Linked DNA regions of Homo sapiens: all the other regions are linked to region 2. Evidence: fine-mapped expression QTL. A gene starts in region 2. Each other region holds a variant in brackets. All regions are shown on one strand. Distances are from middle to middle. Region 1 overlaps TAFA2 (TAFA chemokine like family member 2). Region 2 holds the start of TAFA2 (TAFA chemokine like family member 2). Region 3 has its middle 24 kb from the start of TAFA2.

Evidence for each region. PIP is the estimated chance that this variant, and not a neighbour inherited with it, causes the effect.
Region 1: its variant is fine-mapped to the expression of TAFA2 in breast (GTEx, PIP 0.92).
Region 3: its variant is fine-mapped to the expression of TAFA2 in whole blood (TOPMed, PIP above 0.99).

The regions. Positions count from the first base shown.
Region 1 is chr12:62,115,995-62,126,595 of GRCh38, reverse strand. All of the region lies in intron 1 of TAFA2 (TAFA chemokine like family member 2), which reads left to right. Among named protein-coding and RNA genes, the nearest start is that of TAFA2, 71 kb to the left of the region's middle. The variant T/A (reference allele first, on the strand shown) is at 4,402.
Region 2 is chr12:62,189,738-62,199,940 of GRCh38, reverse strand. It overlaps TAFA2 (TAFA chemokine like family member 2), which reads left to right and starts at 7,168. Exons shown (of 5, transcript NM_178539.5): 1 at 7,168-8,682. RefSeq lists a silencer at 5,579-5,873 and an enhancer at 7,243-7,776.
Region 3 is chr12:62,211,939-62,222,196 of GRCh38, reverse strand. It overlaps a transcript of TAFA2 not described here. Among named protein-coding and RNA genes, the nearest start is that of TAFA2, 24 kb to the right of the region's middle. The variant A/G (reference allele first, on the strand shown) is at 6,977.

The DNA of each region.
Region 1 (10,601 bases), 74 kb after region 2:
TTGTGGCACAACGGAAGAATCTCAAACTTTGGAAACCTCCATGTTTTCAAAAGGATGCCAGCAAACCTGCTCAAACTTTACCCTGGAAAGAAAAAATATCTTTATTATCCTAGTGAGAAAACAAACCTGCCTTCTGCCCTGGAAAGAGACACTATTTCTACCTTCCAAGGCAGTTTGACATAAAAACATTCCTGAACAGCTAATCTGGAACGAAATATATGTTAATGCCTTTGCTTGGAAAGTGCAGAAATGGGAGCCACCCATGGAGAATTGTCTCCCAACAGCTGATGCACTTGGCACATTGTATTAAAATTATCCACTTAAGTGTCTGGTTGGTGAGCTCATTTAGGGCAGAAAGGTAATCTTTTTCATCTTTTCATCCCTACTATTCAGCATAATGCTTGTCAGCGAGTAGAGAATCAATGTATGTTTATAAAATCAATGAATTAATAAAGACTTTTAAAATATGGAGAATATGGGGAGCTATATTTCAAATTATTTTATAGCGAATAATCCATTAAACCACACTAAGACAACTGGTTTTCAAATGCCAAGTGGCCCACAGACAACCAGCTGGTTTTCCGTGATCTGGATTCTAATATATGCGAAAAAAATTTATTATATGATGATAATATCAGATTCACTTATTATATGCCAAGCACTGAGTTAAACTCTTTATAAATAATGCCTCAGTATATCCCAATAAACAACCCTATGAGTAGTACTATTATTATCTGCTAGTGGTAACAGAGACTCAGAAAGTTTAAAGAAAGACTCAAACAAAAAGTTTAAGTAACTTGTTCAAAGTCATACAGGTGGTCAGTGGTGGAGATGGAATTTGAACCCAGGCAGTTCGACGCTGAAGATTGTGTTTTAACAACTTAAGTTGTGCGACTCCTCACAGGAAACAAAAGAAAAAAAATATCTGCGGGAGTTATCTTAGGTTCTCTAAACATGTGCTCTGTCTCTCATACCAAACTTGGATAGACAGAACACAAATATGCCCTATTAACAGGTTCAGTGAGCATTTGGGAAACTAAACTGAACCGTTTAGCATTTGGGAACTAAACTAAACTGAACCGTTTTAGTAAAGATGTCTCTCTGAAAGGAAATTCTTCACGACGGTAAGATGAGTGTCTTCGTCTGTGAATGCTGAGGTTGGGGATGCATGAAGATATGTTATTGCTAACCTTCAACTAAACTAGGGCAGAGCCGGGCCAGCTTCATGGGCATGTGATCTGTGTAGTCACACAGGGCCCCATACTTAGAAGAGCTGTGCTTAGAGCAGTTTGCTTGGTTTGGTTCCTGCTCTGTTTTCAATCAGTCAGTCCCTGGATATTTCTAAGGGTGAGGACTCCAGAGGGGAAGGGTGAATTCCTATCAATCATATTCCTGTAATTATTAATTTTTTAAAAAAATAAAAGGTATACAATTCTGCAGAGGGAGTGAACGTCTGTTTTACAACTCAGGTGCTCATAGAATCCTTTTTGGCTTTTTCCCCAACCTCTTTCTATGTACATGAAAGTTCACTATCACCCATCTTAAAAGAGCTGTGCTTAGAAGAGTTGACTTGGTTGGGTTCCTGCTCCGTTTTCACTGTTTTGAAATTCTTGGTACTTTTTTTGAACAAGGGGCCCTGCATTTTCATTTTGCACTGGCTATTTCAAATTATGTAGTGAGTTATGGGCTGGAGTCTTGATTGACCCTTTACAACAGTGCATTATTTGACAATAGAGAAAGGATATGGGCTGGCTACACCAGTAACTAGAGGTTCTGCCAATATCTGTACTGGAATTTCTAAGCCGTGGAATATCCAATTCCCTGTGTATTTGACGATTCTGCAAGATCACGCTGGGATTGATTTAAGATGTATTTATTGTTGAATACTAGCCTATCTTAAGGAAAATAATATTACAGACAGTTATATATAATTTCCTAATTTTTAAAGGTCTTAGATCTATTTTCATTCTTTTTTTCTGGTCTGATGGTTTGTTTTAGGCCAATTTAACCATTCTCCTTTTATAATAAACACCAAATCAATTCAATGAGAGATAACATTTCCTTTTAACAGCAATCAATATTTACTATTTCCCTTTTGATGTATAAGTTACATTTCTGTTATCCTTAGTAAATGTGGAATGCACTTTGTGATTCCATTTTCTTTTATTTCTTGGTGTGTGTGACTGTAGGCTCAATATACTCTACTCTTGGGTTGGCTAATATATTTCAGTGATGTTATCAACAGCTTTGATTTGTATTCTTTTAGTAATACTTCTTAACTCCCTTTTTTTTTTAACTTCCTCAGAAATCTTACTTAGAGACCTTATATGACCTTTGGTCATACTCATCTGCATTTATTTCTGACAAATACATATGTAATCCAGAGCTTATCTCTTGAAGCTTTTTTTTCTGTACAGTTTTATATCATTATCTTTGCAATCTTTGCGATTCTCTGATGAATTCTACCATTCTTCTACAAATGGAAATAAGCAGGGGCAAAAATACTGATTCGCAGTGGTTTAAAAACCACTTGTCTTGAGTTATTGTTACTAATTTATCCAACTTCTAAATCTTTTCTGTTTCCAAATTGTTGCATCTTGTAGGCTAGTCAGCTTAAATTCGAGTTTAAACAGGAGAATATTTGATGAATAAGTTCTGTAACCTCCTAACTCTACAGACTTGTCTGTTGTACTGCTGCAGACCCAGCAGAGGGAGCCCAAGTTCATGAACCAATCTCAGGAGCGATTTTGATGGTTTAGAACTAGTTCTCCCTCAAAAGGTGGTGTGTGTGTGTGTGTGTGTGTGTGTGTGTGTATGTGTGTGGTGGGGGAGATTTGAGAATATGTGGGGTAGGTGTGTGTGTGTGTGTGTTGGGGGAGGGTTCAGAATGTATGTGTGTGTGTGTGTGAGAGAGAGGGAGAAAGTAGAATGAAGAAGTATAAAGTGTTAACCATTTGAATTTTAATATATACTTCAAATGTGGGGGATATATTACATCTTCTGAAGAAAAATGACAGAAATGATGAGGAGAAGCATTTGATTTTCAGATCCTGAAAAGATCTGACCACTTTTTTTTTCTTACTTTTCCAGTTAGCCTGTTCTCCCTTTAAAAGTTTTCAGATTGAATTCTTATACATTTCCATTTCTTGTGATTTTTATATTTAGGGCAATTTCCCAGTGAAAGCTTTTTTTTTTATTCCCTTCTTCAGTCTATTACCTTACAGGCCCACACATTGTGTGTGCACCTACATCTGAGATAGCAACTCTTGGAGATTATTTAAGTTTAGGTGAATGTTTATTCAATAGATTAATCAATTAGTCCACCAACTATCCAAACAGACTTATTGAGCTTCTAGTGCTATATGAGGTGTGGAGTGTGGGCATAGAGAGAGAGTATGCAGTTGAGAGAGGGAATAAAAGCTGTTTTCTGTCCTCGATAAACTTAAATGTGGCTGAGTATATAAGCGTATTTGGTAAAATACAAAATGTTATGTATCTAAATGCTAAGCAGTAGTTCAAAATGTCCATAAAGTGAATATGAAATAGGTGTTCAGAGGAGAAATATGTAGATACCTGTAGCTGGAAGAGCCTAGAAAAGCTTCAAGGGTGATATGAGCTAGATGATGACTGGTTTTATGCATGTTGAGATGAGAGAAGAGGGTTCTCCATGGTAGAAAAGCAACATAAGAAAGGCCATGGAAAAGAAGGTATGGTTTATGATGGGGCTGCAGGTCACAGTGTGGGATTATGCTGTTTGTGTGCTGCATACCCCTATGCGGTGCAGTTCACACCAAGCCAGTGTGAATGGTGTTTCTCAATGTACCCAGTGCCCTAGAATGAATTCTGTGGTGATTGGGGTTATATGGAACAGTGAGTGGTTCCTAGCCCTTTGTATGTTATCAATCACTCATTGAGAGGAATCTATACAGAGGCAGTGCAGTACGGTGGGTATATATGGACTATGTAATACATTGGAATCTTGGGTTCATCAGAAAATAACTGTGTGACCTAGCTCAAGTTATTAACCTCTTTATGCCTTATTTCCCCCTCATTTATAAAACCACACGATAATGATAGTACCTACTACCTGGAGTTGTAATGGCTAAATGAGATAAAAAGTCAATGCTTAAAGGAGCACCTAGAGCCTGAGTGTTAGCTGTTATCCTCAAAGAGCTGATGTGTTGCTCTAACAGAAGGAAATATCCTACTTTTTCAAGTGTAGAAATATTCCATTAGGCTTTTCGTTATGAACATCCTGGGTTTCATCTAGACTACTTTGTCTTTTGCTCTTTGAGAATGATGGAGCAGATCATATGCTGATCTCACAGGCGGATTCATTGAGGTAAATCAGATAGCATGGGCTTTTAAAAAAACTTATAAGTTCAGGGATACAAGTGCAGG[T/A]TTTTTACATAGGTAAACTTGTGTCATGGGGATTTGTTGTGCAGGTTATTTCATCACCCAGGTATTAAACCTAGTACCGATTAGTTATTTTTCCTGATCCTCTCCCTCCTTCCACCCTTCACCCTCCAAAGGCCCCAGTGTGTGTTGTTCCCTTTTGTGTGTTCATGTGTTCTCATCATTTAGCTTCCACTTATAAGTGAGAATGTGTGGTAGTTGGTTTTCTGTTCCTGTGTTAATTTGCTAAGCTCCATCTCTGTTCTTTCTGGTTTCAGTAAAATACAAAGGTGACACTGATTTCAGGAAGAGTGATGTTCACCTGGGAATTCAATGGTCATGCTTGTGCTTGCAGCTTTCCCACATTTTCTAGTTGTTTTGAACCATGGACAGAATATAAGCTCCATGAGAACAGGGGTTATGTCTACCTTGGTCACTGTCCTATCTCCTGAACCTTACATTTGCTTTTACCCTCAAATGAATGGGTCAGTGATTGAATAGAGGCATGATTTAGATAATTATCTCTTTTTCTCACAAATTTGTTGGCTGTCCTATCCTTAGCATAGTTGAAACAGGTTATTACTACAGAATATCTTGAGAGATGCCAAATTTAATATCTTTCCTGGTGGTTGAATCATTGCCATAAGATGAAAATCACTTATACTTTAGATCACGTTATAGTTTAAAAATACTCTCTCATACATCATGTAATTTCTGACAGCATTCATGGGAATTCGTTATTTCTCATAACTAATAGATTTAGTCACTGAGTCTCAGTAAAGTTGAATCACTGGCTCAATGTTACACACAAATCATTGTGGACTTTGGACTTAATCTGAGGTCTCTGACTACAAGCGCAAATTTTTGTGGCACTATACTTTTTAAATATCTGACTTGAAAGCCTTATGATGATACTCACTCCCCCGGCAGGAATAAAGTCTTTCTAACTTCCTCATATTGGTGTATATATGTTTATGAGATTAGGTAGGGGTTATCATGGAAGACCCCAAGAGGGATTCATAGGGAATGTGATACTGAGCAGAACCTTGAGGTGAGGAGAGATTGAACTTACCTAGGGTAGTTCATAGAAATCATGATGCAGCCAGATCACCGGAGGTCAGGAGTTTGAGACCAGCCTGACCAACATGGAGAAACCCCGTCTCTACTAAAAATACAAAATTAGCTGGGCCTGGTGGCATGCGTCTGTAATCCCACCTATTCGGGAGGCTGAGGCAGGAGAATGCTTGAACCCAGGAGGCAGAGGCTGCAGTGAGCCGAGATCACGCCATTGCACTCCAGCGTGGGCAATAAGAGCGAAACTCCATCTCCAAAAATAAATAAATAAATAAAATAAATAATAATAATAATAATAAAGAAACCATAATGCAGCCATTGGAAATGGAAGGCCTAGATGGGATACCCCACTAGAGACTCTGGAGTAAAGGCAGGAGTGCATAAAGAGATAGAACAGGAGAGACTGGAAAATAGAGAGCCTGGAGTGGGCATTATAGATTTTCATACCTTTATGTGAAGCTGGTCATGCTGTTGGGTCAGCTGGAAACCTAAAGCCAAGTAACTGAGTAGGCTGGAGTTGTGTTTGACTGTACATACCACACGAAGGAAGAGTTTGGAAAGACTATTTCTTACTTTCTCTTCTTCTCTAGTTTTGGAGAAAAGTCTTCATCAAATATGTTAGTAATATTCAACATTTTCTATGCCAATGTTTACATTATAGTCTGAAGCATGTCTGGAAATGGATGTTGTTTAAAAATTTTACCGCTATTGACTGCTTCTATTTTAAATTTCCTACATAATGAAATTACTAAATGGAATCTTTAAAAAGAAATACAAATGCCTATTTAATGAGACCATTGAAATGTACAATGCCATATCCTCTTACGTGCTTAGTAATTACAGACGTAGTTGAAGTCAGTCAACATTTGTGGGTATATCAGTTGTGGAACGACATAGATGGGCCTATTTTAGATTTATTTATGGCTCCCTGATTATATTGTGGAGCAAATTTTTGTTCTTTACAGTATCTAGCACAGCACTTTCTCATAGTAGATGTTTAATAGATGTTTGTTAAATGGTTTGGAAATTAAACACTTTTACTTTTTTTTTTAATGTTTTTTTTTGAGATGGAGTTTCGCTCTTTTTCCCCAGGCTGGAGTGCAATGGCGCACCAGAACTTCTGCCTCCCAGGTTCAAGTGATTCTCCTGCCTCAATCTCCTGAGTAGCTGGGATTACAGGCTTGCACCACCACACCCAGCTAATTTTGTATTTCTAGTAGAGATAGGGTTTCTCCATGTTGGTCAGGCTGGTCTCAAACTCCTGACCTCTGGTGATCCAACCGTCTCGGCCTCCCAAAATGCTGGGATTATAGGTGTGAGCCACCGTGCCCGGCCAAACCCTTTTGCTTTTACAGAGATGCAGTCATACCATGATGGAGCAGAAACAGAGAAACAAGAGCTCCTCTGAAATAGTGGATATGTGGCAATTAATTTACTTTTTGGTGTGCCTTTTCTTCATTTGTGACCTACTTATCTATAAGGTACAGGTTAATTCGGTTTCATTTAAAGCAGCGTTCAAAAGAGCTAATACAAAAATGAGGTAAAACAAATTATGTCATAGTAGGAATGCAAAAATGAAAATAGAAGTGGATATGTGGAGCAATGATTATGCTTGCCTTTCCCATATTGTGGTTACTTTTGTGTATGGTGTATGTGTATATATGTATGTGTGAATTTGTGTGTGTTCCAGTTAGTCAAAACAGATTTTTAAATATGCCTTGTTGAGACGATTGGGGATGCTTCGGGGAAATCATCTTCTTGTTTCTCTTCTTTTTATAATCATTCTGATTGTATTTGATAGTATTGGTAACCTCAACTCCTACTATGCAAATTTTTTTTCATTTAAGAAAACATTATATAACTAATTAGAATTTTATGTAAGTAGTAAAATTTGGGAGTGTTTTTTTAAGAATAATGTAATAATAATTTCCAGTAACTACAGATCAATGCCTGAAGAGTAAATAATTCATTAAATGTCTATGAAAACATGACACTAGGTCCTTCCCTCACACTACATGAAAAAACAACTCCATATAGATTAAGGATTTAAGTATCAAAAGCAAATCTTTAAACACTTAGTAGATAATCCAGATGAATGGTTTTTAGGTCTAGGATGTAGAAAGATATTTCTTAAATAAGGCATAAAACATGTTAACTATAAAAGAAAAGACATATATTTTGCTATATTAAAATTAAAAGCTTTAGTTCATTAAAGAGATGTCTTAAAGTGAGAAGTACTGTCACAAACTAGTTGACAATCTACATAACGGACAAAGGATTGGTGTTAAGAGCACAAAAAATTATCTACAAATCAGTAAGAAAAGTAGCAAAAGTTATAAATAGACACAGAAGAGAAAACTCATATGACTAACAAACATATGAAGAGATGTTTATTACACGATATCACATCCATTAGTGATCATGAAAACACAAAGAAACATAATAATACAACATAAATTTACACTGTTCTTTTGGAAGAAAATATAAAAGCCTGATAGTGTCAATTATTGGAGAGGAAATAGGTCCACTGAATGTTCTTCGCTGACTGGAGGGCAAATTGGTGCAATCATTTTAAAAAACATTAAACAATTTGGAAAAATTGAACATTCATATATCATATGACTTCAGAATTATACTCCTAGATATCCAATAAAACTCATTTACATATACAACAAAAATATGTGTAAAGATGTTAACATCATTGCCACTTGGAATGGAATAGCCTGGAAACAATCTAAATAGACATCAGTAGGAGAGTGGATGAATAAACTGTGGTATATTCACATTAAAATATGACACAGTAGTAAAATGAATGAAGTACAGCATTTACAAATATGAATAAATTTTAGCAATATAATACTGCACAAAAATAGCAAGTTCTAAAAAATTAATGATACCATTTTATAGAGTTAAAAACTAAAATATCCCTTTAGATACATATATATGTAATTATTCTTTGTGTACAACAGCAAGGGAATAAAGGGAATAATGAGTATGGGATGAAATTTGGTTATTGCCTCAAATCTGAAGATTCAGAGGGATGTCATATGAGGTGACTGCATAGTTGAATGTGGGTTGCAATCAGAGCCCCAATATTTGTTTTGGGAAAATTCATGTGTACTTATCACATTATTAAAAATGGCCAAATAGATAAAAGTGGGTCATACAATTACCAATGCTGAGAGTATGTTATAAGCCACGGATTATTATTAATCCAATTCTGTGCACCTGAAGTACAAAGAGGAAAAAAAGATGAACTAGTTCCCAAAATAGATGAATATTAAGGAAATTCAGTTTTTAGCTATATTTTAAGAGTTGGCATGGCAGGCTCTATTTTGTTGCTATTTTTATATTATTTATCAATGCATGTTTAGATTGTATGTTATAAGAAAAACAGCTTTAAGAACTCATTCCCAGGTTATCTGTGTCTATCACATAAAAAAGGAAACATAGGACTCATTCTACTACATTTTCTTGGTGCTCACTTAAATTATATTTTATATATTTTCTAAAGAAAAAATTGAGACAGTACTGAAACCAGTTTTAATACAGATAAGATACTTGGAACATTTGAAGTGTTGAGCATTTAAATAATCAGCCTAAACACATCTGTTGGAAATATGTGGGGTCCCAGGCTGAATACTGTGAGTCAATATGTGGAATTTCAGATCTAAATATCTAATTTACTAAAACATAGTTCCTAAAATGCACCACTTTTTTTTTATATTTAGAAAACAAAATTGGAAGCATTCTAGAATAGCAAAATTAAAACTATTGTGAATTATTGCAAATATAACACAATGCCAATATAATGAGGGCATATGCAAGATCCAAACAAACACAGGAACTAACCAATAAAACGAGTAGGAATTTCAGCTTACAAAAGCAACTGGCAGTCTTTAGAATTTGTAAATACTATTTTGTAATGAAGCCCAGATACTTATTCACATCTGTTTGTTAGGGTTGCCATAACAAAATACTACAGACTGAGTGATATTAAAGAACAGAAATTTCAAAGTTTCCGGAAGATAGAAGTCCAAGATCAAGAGTTGGCAGATTTGGTTTCTCTTGAGGCCTCTTTCTTTGGCTTGCAGTTGGCCATTTTCTCCCTGGATCCTCACCTAGTCTTTCCTCTGTGTATGCATCCCCGGTGTCTCCTCTTCTTTTAAGGATACCAGTCATGGTGGATTAGGGTCCTACCCCAACAGCCTAATTTTAACTTATTTAAAATGGCCAAATAGATAAAAGTGGCCAAATAGACAACCTCATTTATCTCCAAATAAGGTTACATTTTGAGGAACTAGGGGCTGGGGCTTCAGCATATGAGTTTAGGAGGAACACAGATCAGCCCATTACAACCTCCATTTCTGTTACTGTGATTCCCACGACTTAACTCCATAATTAGTGTCTGCTGTTTTCCAGGTCCCGTTCTAGGTTCTGCTGGGACACAACAGTAAAGCCTACAGTCTGTACATCACAGATGTACGTGAGAAAGCAGCAAAGACCCAAAATTAGAGGAAAAATTTTACATTTGCAAGTGCCATTATCCCTAAATCCCTGTCATTTTTATTGAGGACTAAAGGCTTCCTTCTTAATTGTTTGAAAAAATTAACCACTGTTAAATAAATAAATCCCTGCTGCCACATACGCCAGAGCCTACAAGATACTTTATGGAGGTTTGCACATGAGAGCAGTTTAATGGCAATGGAACACCTGTAATTAGAAGCATCTGTCGTTGTGATAATGATTGTGGGCTTATATTTAGAACCACTACGTTTTCTCTGTCCACAAGGTCTTACTGTGTTTTCTCCCTGGCTCTCACACAGGCTTTCCTCTGTGTATGCATGCCTCAGGTATGTCTCCTCCAATTGTAGCCACATGGGCTTCGTGCATCTCAGTGTATGCTGCTGTGAAAGATAGCTATCTGTCTTGTTTGAGGTACTTCTCAGGTCCCTTCAAAGTGGAATTTGGGTTAGCCACACTGTACGTATTTGAAGTCAAAGAGTTCCAAGCACACCCTCCAAATTTTGTGAAAATCTGGTGCCAGTTATTTTCATTTTTTTTCAGTAACAGACTAAAGAACTAATATTCAATTTTATTTAAAATGTTACTTTCCTAGATTAGTTAATGAT
Region 2 (10,203 bases):
GTTTATTAAAAAGCAAGAAACAACAGATGCTGTTGAGGTTGTGGACAAACAGAAACACTTTTACACTGTTGGTGGGAATGTAAATTAGTTCAACCATTGTGGAAGACAATGTGGTGATTCCTCAGAGACCTAGGACCAGAAATACCATTTGACCCAGCAATGCCATTACTGGGTATATACCCAAAGGAACATCAATCATTCTATTATAAAGATACATGCATGTATATGTTCATTGCAATACTATTTACAATAGCAAAGATATAGAATCCACACAAATTCCCACTAGTGATAGACTCGATAAAGACAATGTTTTATATATATATACACATACATATATATATATATACACACACATACACACACACACACCATGGAATGCTATGTAGCTGTAAAAAGGAATGAGATCATGTCCTTTGCAGGGAAATGGATGGAGCCCAAAGCCATTATCCTCAGCAAACTAACACAGGAACAGAACACCAAACACCGCATGTTCTCATTTATAAGTGGGAGCTGAACAATGTGAACACATGAACACAGGGAGGGAAACAACACACACAGGGGCCTGATGGCGTTGGCAGGGTGTGGGGAGGGAGAGTATCAGAATAAATAGCTTATGCATGGGGGTATAATACCCAGGTGATGGGTTGATAGGTGCAGCAAACCACAATGGTACATGTTTACCTATGTAACAAACCTAGACGTCTTGCACATGTATCCAGGCACTTAAAACAAAATGAAGTAAAATAAAATAAAAAGGCATGTGGCCTACTTATCCCCAGTACTCCAGCTTACAATCAGCCAATTGTCAGATAATGACGGAGGCAATGCACTGCCAGTTGATTTCAGACACATGAGTAAGCCCAACCGAGTCGGGAAGAATGAGCCAAAAACAAATTGCCAATCCACAGAAATGTGAACTAAATAAATGTTTCTTCTTTAAGTAACTAAGTTTTGGGGTGGTTTGTTATATTTGCCTACTACATGTAGGACAGTTTTCCTGCCTCAGTTGTTTCTCACATCACTTTGTGAAATGGTCTTCTTGACTTATCTCCATGGCATGTGTCTATTCAGTTGGCCTGTTTGGTTTCCTGAGTTTTGACCACAAAGTATTTATAGAGTATTTATTGTGTGTAAGGTACCATGCTAGGGGATGGGGATAGCATAAGTTAATAACATGCATGTAACCTTGGGTTGTGTGGAATGAATTCTGTGCTTCCTTCCATTCACTTGATTACATGAAAATATTCTGTAAATGTTTTTAAAAAACATTTAAAAGATAAGTGAGAGACACATTATTGCATAAGTTAGAAATAACTTGGTTAACATCAAATAAAATAAGAGGAGACAAGTGGGGATGAATGGCTTGTAGGTAGCAATCCTACAAGCTAAGAACTATGAACTGGGACTCGTAAGTTTTAATTTAATTGTTATAATACCGTATCTTGCAGAACACTGCGGGGAGCCAGAGCTAATTTTTCTCCTTATTCTATCTCTCTTACTAATCTCTTCTCTTTATTCTTACTAATGAACCCAGGTTCTCTGGCTAAAGCCTTTTCCATATCCAGATCCAAATGAGTTTGATCTCCCTGTGATACAGGGGTTGGAGGCAGAAAGAGAGGAGGCTGGGAAAACAAAAACAAGAACAAAACCAAGCCAAACAAAAAATCAATGACTGGCTCTGACTTTAGATAGATCTGGTTTGAATCTCAGCTCCAATATATAATAACAGGTAGATTGTCTCATTTTTTTTTTCATGTGATAAGTGGGTTTATATCGTCTGCTTTATGAGATGTTGTGGGGATTTGAGGTAAGGAGTTTGGATATAATACAAAGCCTTTTGTAGAAAGCTAGAAGTGCTCCAAAAGCTCTCCACCACAGCAGATGGGAATACAAAATGGCACAGACACTTTAGAAAATACTTCTTGTTTTTAAGTTAAACATACCCTACCATATGATCCAGCCATTTCATTTCTAGGTAGTAACCCAAGAGCAATGAAAACATAGGTTCACTCAAAGCCTTCTTCACAAATGTTCATAGCAGCTTTATTTTTAATATCCCCAAACTAGAAGTAACCCAAATGTTCATTAAGAGGTGAATGGTTAAAGAAATTGTGGTATATCTACAATGTGAAATACTACTTGGAAGTAAAAAAGAATGACCTATTGCTATGTACAACAACACAGATGATCTGAAAATAATTATTCCAATGGGAAGAAGCCTGACAAAAAAAGAACACATAAAATACTATTCAATTTATATAAACTGTGGAAAATGCAAACTATAGTGACAGAAACTAGATCAGTGGATGCTAGAGACAGGACTGGAAGAAGATATGGATTATAAATGGGCATGAGGTAACTTTTGGGGGAATGGAAACATTTGGTATTTTGACTGGTGGTAGTTTCACAGATATACCCATGTGTCAAAACTCATCAAATTGTACACTTTAAATACATGCAGTTGATTGTATATCAATTATACTTCAATAAAGTAATTTTCTATAAAAGGCAAAAAAGAAAAAGCCTGAAGTGCACCAAAGTGATTTTTAGCGAACAGAACATGGAAAGCTATGATAGAGTTACAATCCAGTTAAGTTCAGTGTTTAAAGAAATTATTTTTTACTGCTTAGACTTGAGGAGGATGGCAATTTAAACAAATATGGCTATTCCTCAGCTTGTTGTGCCTTACTTTATTGCAGCAGTCCCCAACCTTTTCAGCACCAGGGACCGGTTTCATGGAGGACAATTTTTTTCAATGGACAGTTGGTGGGGGATAATTTCGGGATGAAACCATCCCACCTCAGATCATCAGGCATTAGATTCTCATAAGGAGCGCACAACCTGGATCCCTTGCATGTGCAGTTTACAATAGGGTTCAGGCTCCTGTGAGAATCTAATGCCGCAGCTGATCTGACAGGAGATGGAGCTCAGGCGGTAATGCTCATTTGCCCACAGCTCACCCCTGCTGTGAGGCTGGGTTACTAACAGGGAGGGTACCAGTCCCTGGGGGTTGGAGACCCCTTCTTTGCTGCACTTTGCAAATATTGTTTTTATTTATTATTATTATTTTCTTTTATTTTTACAAATTTAAGGTTTGTGGTAACCCTGTGTTGAATAAGTCCCTCAGTGCCATTTTTTCAGCAGCATGTGCTCACTTCATGTCTCTGTGTTAGATTTTGGTAATTCTCACAATATTTCAGACTTTTTGTATTATTCTTGTATCTGTTATGGCGGTCTGTGATCACTGGTCTTTGATGTTACTATTATAATTGTCTTAGGATGCAATGAACTGTGCCTATGTAAGATGGCAAACTTAATTAATAAATGTTGTGTGGTTCTGACTGTTTCACCAACTGGCTGTTCCCCCAACTCCCTCTCTCTCCTGGGGTCTCCCTATTCCCTGACCTAATATTGAAATTAGGCCCATTAATATAACCCTACAGTGGTCTGTAAGTGTTCAAATGAAAGGAAGAGTCTCATGTCTCTCACTTTAAATCAAAAGCTTAATAGGGAGGAAGGCATGTCAAAAGCTGAGAACTAGGCCTCTTGAGCCAAACTGCTAGGCAAGTTGTGAATGCAAAGGAAAAGTTCAAGAAGGAAATGAAAAGTGCTGCTCCAGTGAACACACAATGATAAGGAAGCAAAACAGTCTTATTGCTGACATAGAGAAAGCTTTGGTGGTCTAGATAGAAAATCAAACCAGCCACAACATTCCTTTTAGCCAGGGTCTAATCCAGAGCAAAGCCTTAACTCTCTTCAATTCTATAAAGGCTGAAAGAAAGGTAAAAAATCTTCAGAAGAAAAATTTGAAACTAGCAGAGGTTGGTTCATGAGATTTAAAGAAAGAAGCTGTCTCCATAATACATGAGTAAAAGGTGAGGCAGTAAGTGCTTAGGTAGAAGCTGCAGCAAGTTATCCAGAAGATCTAGCTAAGATCATTGATGAAGGTGGATACACTAAACAACAGATTTTCAATGTAAATAAACATCCTTATATTGGAAGAGGATGACATCTGGGACTTTCCCAGCTAGAGAGAAGTCAGTGCCTGGCTTCGAAGCTTCAAAGGACAGGATGACTCTCTTGTTAGAGGATAATGCAGCTGGTGACTTTAAGTTGGAGCCAATGCTCATTTGCTATTCTGAAAATCGTATGGCCCTTAAGAATTATAATAAATCTACTCTGCTTGTGTTTTATAAATGGAAAAAGAAAGCCTGATAGCAGCACATTTGTTTACAGCATATTTTATTAAATATTTTAAGCCTACTGTTGAGAGCTACTGGCTTCACAAAAAGATTCCTTTCAAAATACTACTGCTTATTGACAATACATTTGGTCATCCAACAGCTCTGATGAAGATGTACAAGAAGGTTCATGTTGTTTTCATGCCTGCTAACACAACATCTGTTCTGCAGCCCATAGGTCAAGGAGTAATTTTGCCTTTCAAGTCTTCTTATTTAAGAAATATATTTTGCTAGGCTACATCTGTCATAGATAATGATTCCTCTGATGGATCTGGGCAAAGTAAATTGAAAAGCTTCTGGAGATCATTCACCATTCTAGATGCTAGAAGAGTTGCTTCTGTGGATGAGCAAAGTAGTTTTTTTTGAGATGGAATTTACTCATGGTGAAGATGCTGTGAATATTGTTGAAATGACAACAAAGGATTTTGAATATTTTATAAACCTGACTGATAAAGCAGTGGCAGAGTTGAGAGGACTAACTCCAATTTTGAAAGAAGTTCTACTGTGGATAAAATGCTATCAAGCAGCATTGCATGTTACAGAGAAATCTTTTGTGAAAGGAAGAGTCAATTGACACAGCAAACCTCATTATTGTCTTATTTTAAGAAATCGCCACAGCAATTCCAACCTTCAGCAACCACTACCCTGATCCATCAGCAGCCATCAACACTGAAACAAGACTCTCCATCAGCAAAGAGATTAGGAATCACTGAAGGCTCAGATCATCAGTACACTTTTTTTAAAAAAAGCATTAAACCATTTTCAAGGTAAGATATGTACATTTTTAAGACAAAATGCTATTGCATACCTAATGGACTGCAGTATGGTGTAAACATAACTTTCACATGTGTTGAGAAACCAAAAAAATTGTGTGACTCACTTTATTGCAATATTTGTGGTGGTTTGGAACCAAACCTGCAACATTTTTGAGGCATGCCTGTAGAAGGTAAGAAGTATCAACAAAAAATTTCTGTTAAATTAGGAGAATCTTTACTACTTTGTTTCCTTTGAAGAGAATGCAAAAGATTTTATTTTGTCTAGGAGATGCTGGAAATAGGAATATCTTGATCTAAAAATTATTGGGAATTATTTACAAAAAGCACAGAGGTTATGATAGAATTTCAGCATCATATGACATTGGATAAGAAATTTTGTTCTATTTTGTAATTAATTTATATATCTGTTCTCTTTACTTTTTCATATATTGTAAAAACACAGTGGGTTTAGTTAGAAAAATAAGGCTGAAAATGTCCCACACTTAAACAATACAAATAAAATTTTAACAAGATGACAAAACTATAGATTACAACCACAAAAAGTTAATGAATTAGAAGGTAGAAAGATTATAATGTATGCTTTATGTTTTTTTGTATGTGTGTGTGTGTGTGTGTGTGTGTGAAAAGAAAGCCAATGTTCTAAAGTGATTTTGTAAGTGACTTCTTTCTAGTACAGAGTCCAAGTTTCCAATGTCATTCCTGCTTGAATTTCATCACACTATTGAACACAGCAGACAAAAAAATACTGTAAGATTTGCAGTGCAACAGTGCCAGGTGTTTTAAAATGTAAACGTTGCTTTCCTGGATATAAGTTACTATGTAAGTGGAATGAAATATTTAATCACATGGCATAAATCTTTTGAAAGAGACTATCTGAGAGATCCTTGGAAACAAATGATTGCTGTATACTACTAGACAAAGTCAAATATGCCATAGAGCAATTAGTTACGGTAAAACTTGCCTTGTTTAGTTTTGGTGCTTTGTTTTAAATGATTTCAACTAGTCTCAGCTATTTAAAAAATACATTCTTTTCTTTCTTTATGACTGTGCTAATTTAGATTATCAAGTTAAAATAGAACTGCTCCAGAAATTCAGAGTGAATGGAAGGGTGTTTAATAATAACTTTAATACACATTTTACAATTTTTGAACATACAGAAACATTTTGAAAGCAAACCCCCAGCTCAAATAGTAAGTTCACAAAAATCTAAATGTTAAGGTTACAGATGGGACCTAGCTTGATTTGGACTGATGTAACAAAACTTTATAAAATCGGTGGAGCTATTTTTTATAAAAATGACCACCTCAACATAATTAAATTACTTGATGCATTTTAGATACAAAATATGGTTGATTTACTAAGCATGTTAAGATAAAATAGCTAAGTGAAGCACATATTCTATATTTCTTTGTAAATATGGTATGTAGTATTACTTTTATTTTATAGCTGGTGAAGAGAGCTTGTGATACCTAATTTGTCAATGGTTTCAGTGAATCACAGCTATATAAAAGCACAGACCTTTAGAGCTGGAAGGAATTTAGCTATCTTGACCATTATTGGTCTAGTTGAAAAAGAGGTATGAAAACTGGCTCCAAAACCAGATTCTTGAGTTATCTTTCCTTGTAAAGGACTTGTAAAATTTCCTGGGTCAGCATTCCCTTTCTTTGTTTCAGATTTTCTTTTTCTGAATTCATTCTTACTAATTATTCATTTTTGAATAGTCTTCTAATCACTAGATTAAGGTTTTGCTCATCTCCAAACATGATCGAAGTGAGCCTCAGAAGACCCTTCATTTGAGCTCATATGCACAGCGCTTAAACCGACACCCAATTTGACCAAACATGTAAGGACATGACCTTCCAGCGTCATGAATATCACGACGTTCCTTTAGCAAGGGCTTTGCTTAATAGGGCTGCAGTGAAAATCCTCCGTCTAAATCCTTGAGAAGTTGTAATTTGTAAAAATGCAAATTATCTGAAACCAGATATTTTTTTCTTTTTCTTTATGGAGAGAAACTGGTCTGTTACATCTAGTAAAGCGTTCTAATCCGGTTGACCCTCTAGAGGGAGACATAGTCCAGCTTTTATACCAGTTGCCTCCTCATCTTTTACTGTCTCGTTCTTTTTCTGCAGGACCGTTGTTTGCTCTCAACGGCAGTTGCTGGGGCTAACAGAACTGGCTGTTGGGAGAGAGAGGCGAGGCAACGCCGCCCGGCCCTGCCATTCCATTTTACTGCTTAACTCAACCTGGAGTGTCAGGACCTATTCTCCTGCATTCTCGCTGCACTATACGGGGGAGCCAAGTCACTCTGTACTCACTGGACAGCCAGGCTGGGTGGAATAGGGTTCTAGAGTGGAGCAGGGGCTCTGCCCTTTATGGCGACTTTCTAAAAGATTAGCATCAGTGTCTTTTGACAGTATAGCATCTGGGGTGGGACGCGGAGAGGAGGCTTTGCTTGCTAAACGGCTTCTTTCTCCGCCGGTGATCTGGATTTGTTTCCTCGGCCCCCTCCCCCCGCTCCTTTCTTTCTCCCCTCCCGCCTTTAGCAAAGTGACACAGGCGACACCTGCTCGCTTGTGTTCGATGTTGGAACTCGCACCTCCTCGGTGGTGACGGTGCCAGGGCACTGCTACCAGGGGGACATCGGCGGGTTTCCCTTCCTTCCAGCCCACGATGCCTAGAAGGGCAGCGGGTGGGCTGCGTGGGGCTCTGCCCGCAGCACTTCGAGGCGGGATTGAGGGGCTGAAGCTGGCCAGGAGTTGCTGCTAAGTGGATTCGAGTGGAAGGCGCCAAGTCTCCGCGAGGGCACCAGCGGGGACCTATCTGCGAGCAGTGGGAACAGGGGCACCTGGACGGAGGAACGCGGGCGTCTGGAGGGGGGACATCGGCTGAGCTCAGAGCCTCTCCTCCTTCCTGTCCCGAGCTTCCCAGCAACTCCGCCACGTTGGAGACCCGGTACCTGCGAGAGCCAGGGAACTCGAGAAGTGCGTGGCCGAGGCTGCTTTCCTGAAGGTGAATCATTCTGTCCAATTGCCTTTCCCCAGAGAACAAGAGGGAGGGCGGGAGAGAGGGAACGGAGGATGTGTGAGTGTGTGTGTGTGTGAGAGGGAGAGACGACGTGAGGCGAGAGGAAAAGTCTTTAGTCGGCCTTAAAAGCAAACAAATCAGAGATGGAATAAGAGCGGTAATTGCAGCAAGACCGCCTTGATTCTTGCAGTCCAGGGAGCTGAGCGCACCGCGCGCATCCGGCGAGGACAGGAGGCGACCGCGGGCGCTGCCAAGGGCTGCGGGACTTTGGCTTTTCCTCAGTAAACAAATCTTTTGATTACTTTGACACTGTGGAATAAAGAAGCGGGGAGAAGGATCAGGCTCACCTTCACCCGCTTCAGGGGGATTCCAGCTTGGATGTCAGATTCCTGAACCGTCTTTGCCATCGGAGGAGGAAACACATCCACACACGCGCGCGCACACTCGCACGCTCAGGGCCACACTCACACGCCGCCCTCCACGATCACACAGCACCAGACTTCGGTTCCCTATGCCCCTGGATGGTGACGGCGGATTGGCATCTTGGAAGCGATGCGAGAGCGATAAGGCTGGCGCCGGCCCGCAAAAGCTGCAGGAGCATCGCTAGGTGTTGCCGCCACCGGGAAGCGGGGCTGCAGGTAGGTGCGAGCCGCGCCTCGGGTCGCCGGCCAGCGCTGGGGACCGGAGCGGCAACTGCAGGACCGCGGTCCCGGAAGCCCCCGTGTGCACACGTCTCCCTTCCCCTTTCTCGGGGGTCCGGGACTGTAGAGGGATCGCCCGGGGAAGGCGAGAGGTGAGGGCAGATGCGGGTCCATCGGCCGGCGTCTCCCTCGCGGGCGGTCAGGGTAGGGGCGGAGTAGAGGGACGCCGAGAGGGGATCGGAGCATGCGAAATGAGGCTCCGTGAGCGGTGCCCTCCCTCTCTGCCCCATTTCTCCTAATAACAGCAAACGACCAGGTCGAGGATTGAAGTGGGTTGTAATTCGATTCCTCACCCAGACCCATCCTGGCTGGTAACCATTTTGGACTCTTAATAAGGAGTTGGGGGTCGCATTCCAGGGAAGATCAATGGGATGTGTCAGGTCATCTTTCTGAAATCCCTACTTTTTGTCCACTTCTGATTAGTTAATTCTCAGGCCTGTTTGCAGAAGGTGGGTGTTTCAGCGAGTCTATTGATTTATCCACCTCTAACTATCTTCATAAAGAATCAAGCTGATAATTTCCGGAGCCTCATCTATGTAAGGTTTATTTAGATTTGGGACGGGGCGCTTTCTTACTGAATGAAATAAAGCTTTTGTAAAGGCTACTACAAGAGAGCTTTAGTAAATGATTCTCTTAACGAACAGCGTTCAGAATAAGAATGGCTTCGGGAAACTAATGGTTTTTTATTTCTTTCCGGTTAGATGTCTCCCGGATCTTGCTACTAGTACCCGGGTTTTCTGCTAACTGCTTTGCCATTCCTTCCCCCTTCAATTCTGAAAGGCCAGGTGCCTACCAAGTATTGTTTTCTTGAGGCTACTGATCTTCACTTATCAATGGGGGAACGTGTTATTTTCAGAAACTGGCTTTGCAAAGGAAAGTTTGAGATCCGTCGCCCTATTTCTCTCAGAACTGCAGGTTGAGTTATCCTGTCTGAAAAGGAAGAACCATAGACGCTCGTAGAGCCTTTGGGTGGACGCGAGGCTTCCCTATTGAGTATTCCACGTCCTGACCGAGTGTTAAACAATTGCCTGAAGCGTTTGGAATCAAATGTGTAGTAATGTTACTCCAGCGGCTAGTCTCTCTTCACCTTTGCTGCGTGAGTTTGATTATGGCAATAAGAGAGAGAGAGGGAAAAAATTATCTTTTTGTGAGTATGAAATCCCCTCTTGGATTTTACAAAATGGTTCGTGGAGAAAAAAAACCTTAAAAACCACAGACACACACACACACACACACACACACACACACACACACAAAGCAAACTCATAAGCAACCTTTACTCTGAAGTGTCCCCAAAGTACTTGGTAGTGTAGCAGGGTCCTTCACACAGGACAGGATGAATTTCAGTTACTATTGACTGAATGATAATTATCTGATTCTTGTCTTCTCAACTAGATTGTTTTAAACATCAACATTCAGAGTTGTCAATTAACACTCCTAAACTGCTTTATTAGGCAT
Region 3 (10,258 bases), 22 kb before region 2:
GTTTATTATACCTTTGCTTCTCTGTAGGCATATAGGCACAGGTAGGCATCTGTGAGGGTTCTTACAATGCAATGTCTCTCTTCACCCCTCTATCACAGAAACAGACCGACTTCCTAAAATAAACATTGCTTGTTTTAATCTTACTTTTTTTCAGGTCCACTCCCATCTTCTTAGACTCTTTGCTTTACATGGTTTAGAAATCTCTACTGTGGCAATTTCTTTTCTCCAACTTACTGATTTCTAAGAGTTTGAATACTAGCACTTTGTAGTTGCGTGTTAAAAATATATTCTCCCCTCTTTAAGCTTTCTCTTATCACCCTTTTATGTTGTTATTTGGTGAACATAAATTCTTTACCTTAATGTACTAGATTTTTTCAATCTTAACTTGATGGTCAGAGCTTTTTGCATCTTATTTAAAAATGATTTCCTTCTCTAGGGTCATAAAAATATCCTCCAATTCTATTTTCTAAAATCTTTATCATTTTTGTCTTTATATTTACTTCTCTGATCCTCCTGGAATTGATTCTCATGAATCAATGAGAGGTTAGGGTCCAATTTTATTTTTCCCAATTATCCCACACCCATTTGCTAAAAACCACCAATCTTTTGTGCCACTGCTGTCATATATTAAGTATTCATATATGAATAGATCTTTCTGAGTTATCTATCCTGAGTCATTGATCTATTTGTTTTTCCCTGAACTAATAGCACTTAGACTATTAGTTTCCCTGAACTAATAGTCTTAGTTATCATAGCCCAGTAATAAGTCTTAGTATCTGTTACCAACCTAGATGCCTACTAAATCAGTTGGTTGGTCTAATATTTTCAATGTTTTTGAACAATGAATATCAAAGAATACAAAAATGATCTGTACATCTAGCTATTTGGAGATGGGTATTTTGGTGAATATTTTTGTTTCTTTTCTTTCAAACTTCCTTCCTTCCTTCCTTCCTTCCTTCCTTCCTTCCTTCCTTCCTTCCCCCCTTCCTTCCTTCCCTCCTTCCTTCTCCCCTCCCCTCCCCTTCCTTACCTTTCCCTTCCTTTCCCTTCCCTTCCCTTGTGTTTTGTTTTTGTTTTTGTTTTTGTTTTTTTTTAGACGGAGTCTCGCTCTGTCGCTCAGGCTGGAGTGCAGTGGCACAAACTTGGCTCACTGCAAGCTCCGCCTCCCGGGTTCATGCCATTCTCCTGCCTCAGCCTCCCTAGCTGGGACTACAGGCGCCCGCTACCATGCCCGGCTAATTTTTCTATTTTTTAGTAGAGATGGGGTTTCACCGTGTTAGCGAGGATGGTCTCGACTCCTGACCTCGTGATCCGCCCGCCTCGGCCTCACCAAAGTGCTGGTCTTACAGGCGTGAGCCACCGCGCCCGGCCCCCTTCCCTTCTTTCTTTTCGCTCTTCCTTCCTTTGTTCTTTTCTTTCTCTCTAAATAGACTATTTTTTTTTAGCAGTTTTAGATTAATAGCAAGGTTGAGTGGAAAGTACAGAGAGATCCCATATGCCACTGCGTACACACACGCATACTCTTCCCCCACTATCAACATCTCCCACCAGAGTGGTACATTTGTTACAGTCAATGAACTTACATTGATGCGTCATTATCACTCAATGTCCACAGTTATTATTAGGATCCACCCTTGATGTTATATATTTTGTGGGTTTTGACAAATATATGATGACATGCATCCGCAATTAATTTTGTAAGAAACTGCAAAACTGTCTCCCAAAATGGCTGTACTATTTTGCATTACTACCAGCAGTGAGTGACAGTTCCTGTTGCTCTATATCCTCACCAGGATTTGGGGTTGTAATGTTTTGATTTTGACCATTCTTACAGGTGTGTAGTGGTATCTCATTATTGTTTTAGATATTTTTAAAAATTTTTTGTCTTGTTTTTTATATTTTATTTCTCATTTTATTAATTTGTAGTTTTTTCCTTTTTAGTAAGTGGGTGTAATTTTGTAATTTTTTAAAAGTAATGATTAGTTTTTAAAATGATTTTTCCTTTGAGTTTATTGTTTCCATTTCTTTCATTTGACTTTTACTTTGTTCTAGTTCTAACTTCATTAGGTTTTTTTTATTTGGTGGCTTGTTTCTGCCTCTAGTGAGGTTTTGCCTTTATTAAATAAAACAATTGCATCTGAGCAGTTGTTTTATTTTTGGTAACATTTCAATAATTTAGTTGTTTAAAAATGCTCCATAACTTTCTTCTAGATTTTTCCACTTCCCAAAATGTACTAGGTATTTTCAGTTTTCATCTTATATTCTCTTTGATCTGCTGATCACTGGGTTTAAAAATAGTTCATATCTACAGCTTAGCTTGTTGAGTATTTTCTGCAAAAGAATGAGATTTTGTGTTGTGTTTTAAAGGTAATGTGTTAGAATCATTTCTTTACTTTAACAACCTATTGAAAGAGGAACACTTGCAGATATAGTTATAACTTAATAGAAGGAGGCACAGTTTTCATGTACTGGGTGAGTGATTTATATTAAAAGCAGTTAGGTTATATAGTCAGTGATTTAATTGTAAATTTGGTGAGCAAATTCAACCCCTTATGACAAATAGTGCTTACAACTTTAAGTGAACAAACTTTTCTTTAGAAAATAAGTTTCTTTTATAACAAACACCCAATTTCAAAGGTTCAATTCAACAAGACTTGGAATTTTCTATTAAAATTAACTTTTGATTATTATCGAATAACTTCATCCTTGGTATACAAAAATTCAGGTTTATGTGATTTAGACTAACTGTAGATTTAATTTAAATTCTGGGGTTGCTGTGTGTAAATATTCTCTAACCTTCTCCTGTATCTGCCAATGCTTTGCATTTCCAAAAGCACTTGTGTTAGCAACTTCTTCAAGTTTTCTATTAAAGACTAATAAAATTGTGACCTATGATTTCATTTACAGTTTTAACCGAAGCTAATTTTTCATCTCTACACTTTAAGTAATTTCACAGATGAATTTCTCTTAGTTTTGTTTTTGAATTCTTTTATGTTAACCTAAGTTTTTTTTTTCAAAGCTGGAGCATATTTTTATTCATCAATTTGCAGAGATATAATCTTACTGTGAGAAACTTAAGTTGTTTTGTGTGTTTTCAAAAATGTTTTCCCACTAAATTTTCTTTTGCTATATTCTCCCTGGTATGTTATTCATTGTCAGTAATTAAAATGCTATTTTGTCCTCATCTTTTCTAATTATGTGTAAATTACAGTTTTCTTATATTGTCATTTTAATTCTATCATCTCAAATCCAAAATGTCATAATGTCTAGCTACTTTGCAAGTATGATATTATTGAATCTCCTATGTAAATGTGTAACAGCCTGAAAAATGTCCTTCAGAATATCTTTGGTAAATAGAAAACTATTCCAATTTAAATGTCCTTTAGATATCTACTCTGATTATCACTGATTTATTGACTTTGTGACTTGCAATGAGAAAGCAACAAAAAAAAAGAGAAAGAAAATAAATGGCTATGTATAATATTATATCCAAGAATATCTGAAACATCTATTTCATTCATAGATTTAAAGCTATAAAGATCGTAAAGATAGTAGTACTATATTATAAAATATAGAGCTGTGCTTGACATATTGTAGGTGCTAAATAAATATTTATTAAATGAGTGAATGAAATTCAGAATTTTCACAGGAGGCAAACACAGTACGGGTTGGGTTAGGATATTTAGCTTTTTCTTTGCTGAATAGCAAATTGTGGTAGTTCTCCAGGCTAACATTATCCCTCACTTTGATAACTAGGGATGTGAGCCTACCCAACTGATCACATACTAGCATTTCAAGTAATAGGGGATGTGTTCATCAGACACGGGTAGGAGAGACTCTTTTCCTTTCCTTCCCTCATTTCCTTTCTTCCACTGTTTTTTCTTTACAAATTAAAATTCAGGCCAGGTGCAGTGGCTCACTCCTGTAATCCCAGCACTTTGGGAGGCTGAGCGGGGAGGATTGCTTGAGTTTAGGGGTTCAAGACCAGCCTGGGCAACATAGTAAGACCTCATCTCTACTAAAAATTTAAAAAGTTAGCCCGGTGTGACGGTGCGTGCCTGTAGTCCCAGCTACTTGGGAGACTGAAGTGGGAGGATCTATTGAGCCCAGGAGGCTGAGGCTGCAGTGAGCTATGATCGCATCACTGCAGTCCAGCCAGGGCAACAGAGTGAGACCCTGTCTCAAAAATAAATAAATAAATAAATAAATAAATAAATAAATAAATAAATACATACATAAAAATAGATAAATTCAATCAGCATTAGTTTTGAAAAGTTCAGAAGTAAAACTTTTTTCTCCTGGCTCATTTTCACTTACTCAACTCAATAGCATTTTGGTAAGTACCCATCTCAGGTATGTTTGCTTGGGAAAAAAGATTCTAAGATGCAAATTTGTCTGAAAGAAGTTTACTGAAGAATGTCCTTGGGATCGATATCTGTGAGAGAGCAGAGGAAGTAAGAATATTCATGGGAGAGCTGAGCTGTGATGCAATTGTGATAATGGCTTCAGCCACCTCGAGGGAAGCTCTGGAACAGGTATGGCCCTTCAGAGTTGGCCTACTTTGAAGGAAGGGCTGGGCCTTATAACTTTACATCTGGATCAGTCACTGAAAATGAGCTTCCCTCTGGAAAGGGACTTGATCTTGGGCAAGAGGCTTTCTTCAGCTGACTTGGGCAGCTCTGGGAGAACCTACCTCATAACAGACAGTTTTAGTCCATTAATCACTTGATCTTCTGTAATTAGACTCTTTGTCTTTTCTCTCTGTCTACCAGGGCCCAGTTGCACTGCAGAGAGCTTTTATTTTAAAAAATGGTGTGTAACTCCTTACTTCAGATGGAGTGGTTTGATCCAGAATCCTAGGTATTTACATTGTGGTTTTACTTTAGGGCCTTGCCATAAACTCCACATATTATCTTTTCCTATTACTGATGCTTTTCATACTGAAAGGTCTGCTGGATCATATGGCCCAAGTACTCCCTGTACCTGCTGCAGGGCTGTCTGCTGCTTTGGACCCCACTCAAAGCTTGTAGCCTTTCATGCTATCTAGAGGGTGGGTAAAAGCAGTATTTGCCAATATGTAATATGTTAAACATGTTAGCCAAAGAGGAATACCAGAATACCAGGCATGGTGCTTCCCTTTTTGCGGAGAGACATATAAGATACAATAATTTGTTTCATTTAGAGAGGATGTCGCAGCTTGTACCAGATCACTGGACTCCCATATACTACCTACATGGCATTTCCCTGAACCCTTATAGGGTTTAGCTCCCGCACTCTGGAATGCATATGGTATACCGTAATGTATATGCTAACTTCTTGCTTGTCTAGTCCAATTAATATGGTACCACTGAAATAGTGAACCAATGCTATGTTTTGACAAATGACCAGTTCGGGCATCTTTGAAATACATTATGTCAGAGGGCAAAAGAATTAACCTAGCTTTGGGTAAGACTGTAAACATATACACCTATCTGTTTCAAGTGAATTCAAACCATTTCTGATCTTTCCAATAAGATTGGAAAATAAAGCGTTTTTCAGATCAACAATAGTATACTGTGTATTAAGAATTTGTGGTAATCTGCTCTAGCAAAGAAGCCACATCTGGGACAACATCTATAGTTGGAACTACTTTTCTGATCGAGTTTGCCTTACTTTACTGTCATTCTCCAAGATATGTCTGTTTTTTGTAGGGTCCTTGCTGGTCAGTTGAAAGGGAATAGGATGAAAATCAGCAACCAAATATTATGTAGGTTTTTAAAGGTGTCATTAATCTCTGCCACCACTTCCCCAATACCCACACTAACAAACAGATGAAATGCTGTTTGTTAAAATTTACTGTCTTGGGAAGGAGCAGTTTCAGAGTTTAAAATTACCTTTCTCTACTATATGGGTCTTATTCCACAGTCTAAGGTACCAACATGGGGGTTCTGCTAATTACCAAGCATGTCCACTATTGTTATTCAATTAGCAATGGCAGTAGTGACTACTGGATAGGTGTGTGGACCCGCAATTGGATAGCACTTGGCCAGACTCCATTTGTTACTTTACCCCCATATGCTGGTTCTCTAACAGAGGAATGTAATGATGCTTTAGTGTCAACTCAGACTCTGTGTCCAAAAGTCCTTGAAACATTTGGGTATTTTCTTAGTTGAGAAAATGGCTTTTGGTACTGTCCCCTTGGGGAAGGATTGAGGAAACTGTTACTTTATTCACTTGCCATGGTGATACAGGGTCTCTAGAAACCCCATCTTTTGATGGGCAAAACCCACTGGTCTTTACAAATAGCAATTCTTATAAAATTTCATTTGATGCTCATGACAACCATTATCATTAGAGTAGCTGCTATTATATAAGAGCTCTCTGTCTACAAATAAGAAACCAAGATTCAGGGAGTTTAGGTCACACAAAATGTAACTTGCAAGTGTCATATCTCTTTTTTTTTTTTTTTTTGAGAAACAAGTTGTTTCTCTTAAGCAAGAGAAACAAGTTGTTTCTCTTAAGCAAGAGAAACAAGTTCTTCCTCTTAAGCAAGAAAAACAAGTTCTTCCTCTTGTTTTTTTTTTTTTTTGATAAACGAGTTGTTTCTCTTAAGCAAGAGAAACAAGTTCTTCCGCCCCTTTTTTTTTTTTTTTTGAAAGACAAGTTCTTTCTTTTTTCCAGCAGAGACTGTGGCTGCAGTAAATTTTCCCTGAGTAAGATTGTACTTATTTAATTTTTTGTGTCTAAAAAGCAGAGTTGAATAGCAAGAGCTTGGTGAAAATGTCAGTACTTCCCCAGGCTATGAGATGTTCTGGAAAATTTGTTATTCTTGTATCCTATTACCTTGCCTTTTCCCATTTCAGGTTATTCCTACTGTTGGAGCAACTACTGAGAAGGGAAAACTCAAATGATTTAGAGATAAGACACACAGGGCTGCTTTTGGTGACTGCACATCTGCATTCAATTAATAAACAATTTGTGAAAAATTGACTTACCA[A/G]TAACCCAAAATGTGAACAAGTAGACATTGACTTTTGTTCTTCAATTCCAAAACCTGGAGGTATGATTGTCTTGGAAAGTTTTGGTCTCTTATGAGGATATACAGAGATAGCTTGTGCAAAAGTAATGATTTCACTTCTTAGTACTCTCTCTTAGGTGAGAGTTGCACAACTTCCTTTTCTCTCTAGTCTGGCCCCTTTGAGTCAGGAGAGTGGGTCTCAGAATTGGTGCAGGGATGTAAGTAGAAATGGTTATCAAAATAAATGGAGCCTTTAAAGATAGTATCTCTAGAGTGGTATCCCTTCTTATCACTGCTTTGAGGCATATTATATTAGAAGGTGGGGATAATGGGTGTGTGTGTTAGTTTGTGAGGGATGCCATAACAAAGTACCATAGACTGATGTCTTAAACAACAGAAATTCACTTTCTCACAGTTCTGGAGACTAGATTTCTCAGAGCAAGGGGTCAGCAGGTTCATTTTTTCCAAGGCCTTTTTATTTGGCTATCTTTCTATGATATTGCTGTGTGTGTGCATGTCTGTGTCCACGGGCACAAGGGCACCAGTCATATTCGATTAAGTCCCACCCTAAAGACCTCATTTTAATTTAATTACTTTAAAAAAGATCTTATCTCCAAATACAGTTACATTCTGAGATAGTAGGAGTTAGGACTTCAACATATAAATTTTTGGGGGTGTATTAATTCATTTTCATGCTGCTGGTAAAGACATACCCAAGACTGGGAAGAAAAAATGGTTTAATGGACTTACAGTTCCACATGGCTGGGGAGGCCTCACAATCATGGCAGAAGGAAGGAGGAGCAAGTCACATCTTAAATGGGTGGTGGCAGGCAAAGAGAGAGCGAGCTTGTGCAGGGGAACTCCCATTTTGAAAACCATCAGATCTCGTGAGACTTATTCCCTATCATGAAAACAGCACAGGAAAGAACTGCCCCCGTAATTCAATTACCTCCCACAACACATGGGAATTCAAGATGAGATTTGGGTGGGCATACAGCCAAACCATATTGGGGTTAGGGGCCATAAGTCAGCCTCTTATAAGGGGGATTATTTCTCACATTGGCAGTTAAATTCCTAAATAAACAAGGGGCTAAATCAACCCTTCTTAACCTGGTGCATCTTAATGGTTTGTGAAATTTTAGAAGTACATGCTTTCATTAGGTTCTTAGTTCCCCAAAAGGCTAAGAGTCCAAATAGTGTTTACATACTGGTAATGATGCAAACTGGGAACTTGATTCGATATCTCTGTGTTTAATAGTTTTTTGTTTGTTTGTACACAGGTCTAGGAACCTAGTTTCCATCTTAATGAGTTTCTATAGGATGGGGACATTCTGAGTTCAAAACAATATATAAAAATCTTGAAAGGTATCTTATTCACAAGTTGAGGCTACCTACTCTTGGAGTAAAGAAGAATAATTGAGTTTAATGAATTTCAGTGGATGATAAGTATTTATTATTTAACTTGGATTGTAAATTCTGAAAGACAAGACCATGTGTATTAACAAGGCACAGCACCACACACAGGAGTACCTAATGGCAACTTACACTTTTTTTTTTTTTTGAGACAGAGTCTCAGTCTGTCACCAGACTGGAGTGCAGTGGCACGATCTCGGCTCACTGCAACCTCTGCTTCATGGGTTCAAGTGATTCTCCTGCCTTAGCCTCCTGAGCAGCTGGGACTACAGGCACGCGCCACCATGCCCAGCTAATTTTTGTATTTTTAGTACAGACGGGGTTTCACCATGTTGATCAGGATGGTCTCAATCTCTTGACCTCATGATCTGCCCACCTCGGCCTCCCAAAATGCTGGGATTACAGGTGTGAGCCACCACGCCCAGCTGCAACTTATACTTTTAATAATTATTTAACAAATTGAACTTACCTAAATGGTTCAGGTAATCATCTTGAAAACTAGGCAGCTTATCCATAAACAGAGTACACCTAGGGATTTTGTTTTTACCTGAATTCTGAAGCATGGCTTTAACACTATTCCATTCATCCTTCTTACTACTTCTCTAACTGTGACCCTTACCCAAGTAAGAAGGGAATGAACCGTGGTGGGGTATATGAGCAGCTGCCTGGTGTAAATCCAAAAGAAAAGACAGGCATTTATAGTGGCTCCCGGGTATGAATTGATTCAGAGATGGGCCAAAATTTGCGGCCTCTATTTTATATAATTTCATAATTGCACTTTTTTTAGAACTAGCATATGAAGCAAAGACTTCAGATAGCAATAATATATTTAGGCTTATTTTCAGGCATCTTTAAGCACTCTAATATTAAAAGTTTTAATCTTCTGTTAATAATTTTTACCTTAACATTTATATCTTTTGGATTCATGTGGTTAGGTGTATTTTTTGCTCTCATTAATGCAATCATTAAGAAATCTGTTGTATCAGTACAGTTATAATTTATTTATTTCTCTTGAGAAATGGCTTACACCTTTGATAATTTAGAATGCCAAATGAATAAAAAAGAGGATTTTTCAAATGTTTCGCTTTTATTAGTACCTTTTTTCGGCAGAGCATATGAGAATCTCAACTATTGTAACAGGGTTTCAAAGGAAAGCAATTCTATCTACCAAGAAAAGAGGACACATATTTAGAGAATCGTTATTCAGCAGACAGAGGAGAAGAGGGACTTTTCCTTCATGGATGTCAGACGACTTTGGTAGGCTCAGCTATAATAGTTTGCAAGCTCGAAAAGTGTCTAATGGGGGCAGAAAGGAGTTATTCCTAGAGGGTATCCCTGGGGAATATGAATCATGATCATAAAGAGATGAAAATGTGCTTATCCAAACCCCTTAAAGGGCAAAACCTGAAGAAGTAGGCTTATGTGTGAAATACAGGGCTCAATGAAACACCTCTTTATAGGTGGATTCTTGGAGAGGTTGTTGAATTTCCATTGCTGAATATCATTAAAATGACAGGAAGGTTTTGGGTCTGGGATATTTTGAATACAAACTTTTGGAAATAAAGGAAAGCTGAGTACTATTTGAAACTTCCTCTCCAATTCTGTTAGCTAATGGTGACTATACACCAAATTTCTTTCTACCTGCTTTTCCCTGATTTGCTGTATATCTTGAATCACAAAGGATAATTAAATTATTACCTTTAACAATATTTATTGCTTGACTACAGGTTTCATACTAGTTGATAATTTGTTGTGAAGTGGGTCACTAATAATAAAGTTACTACTGACAGAGTATTGACTTTTGGGATGTATTTACTTTGAAATGTAAAGTAGAATAGTTACTATAATTGT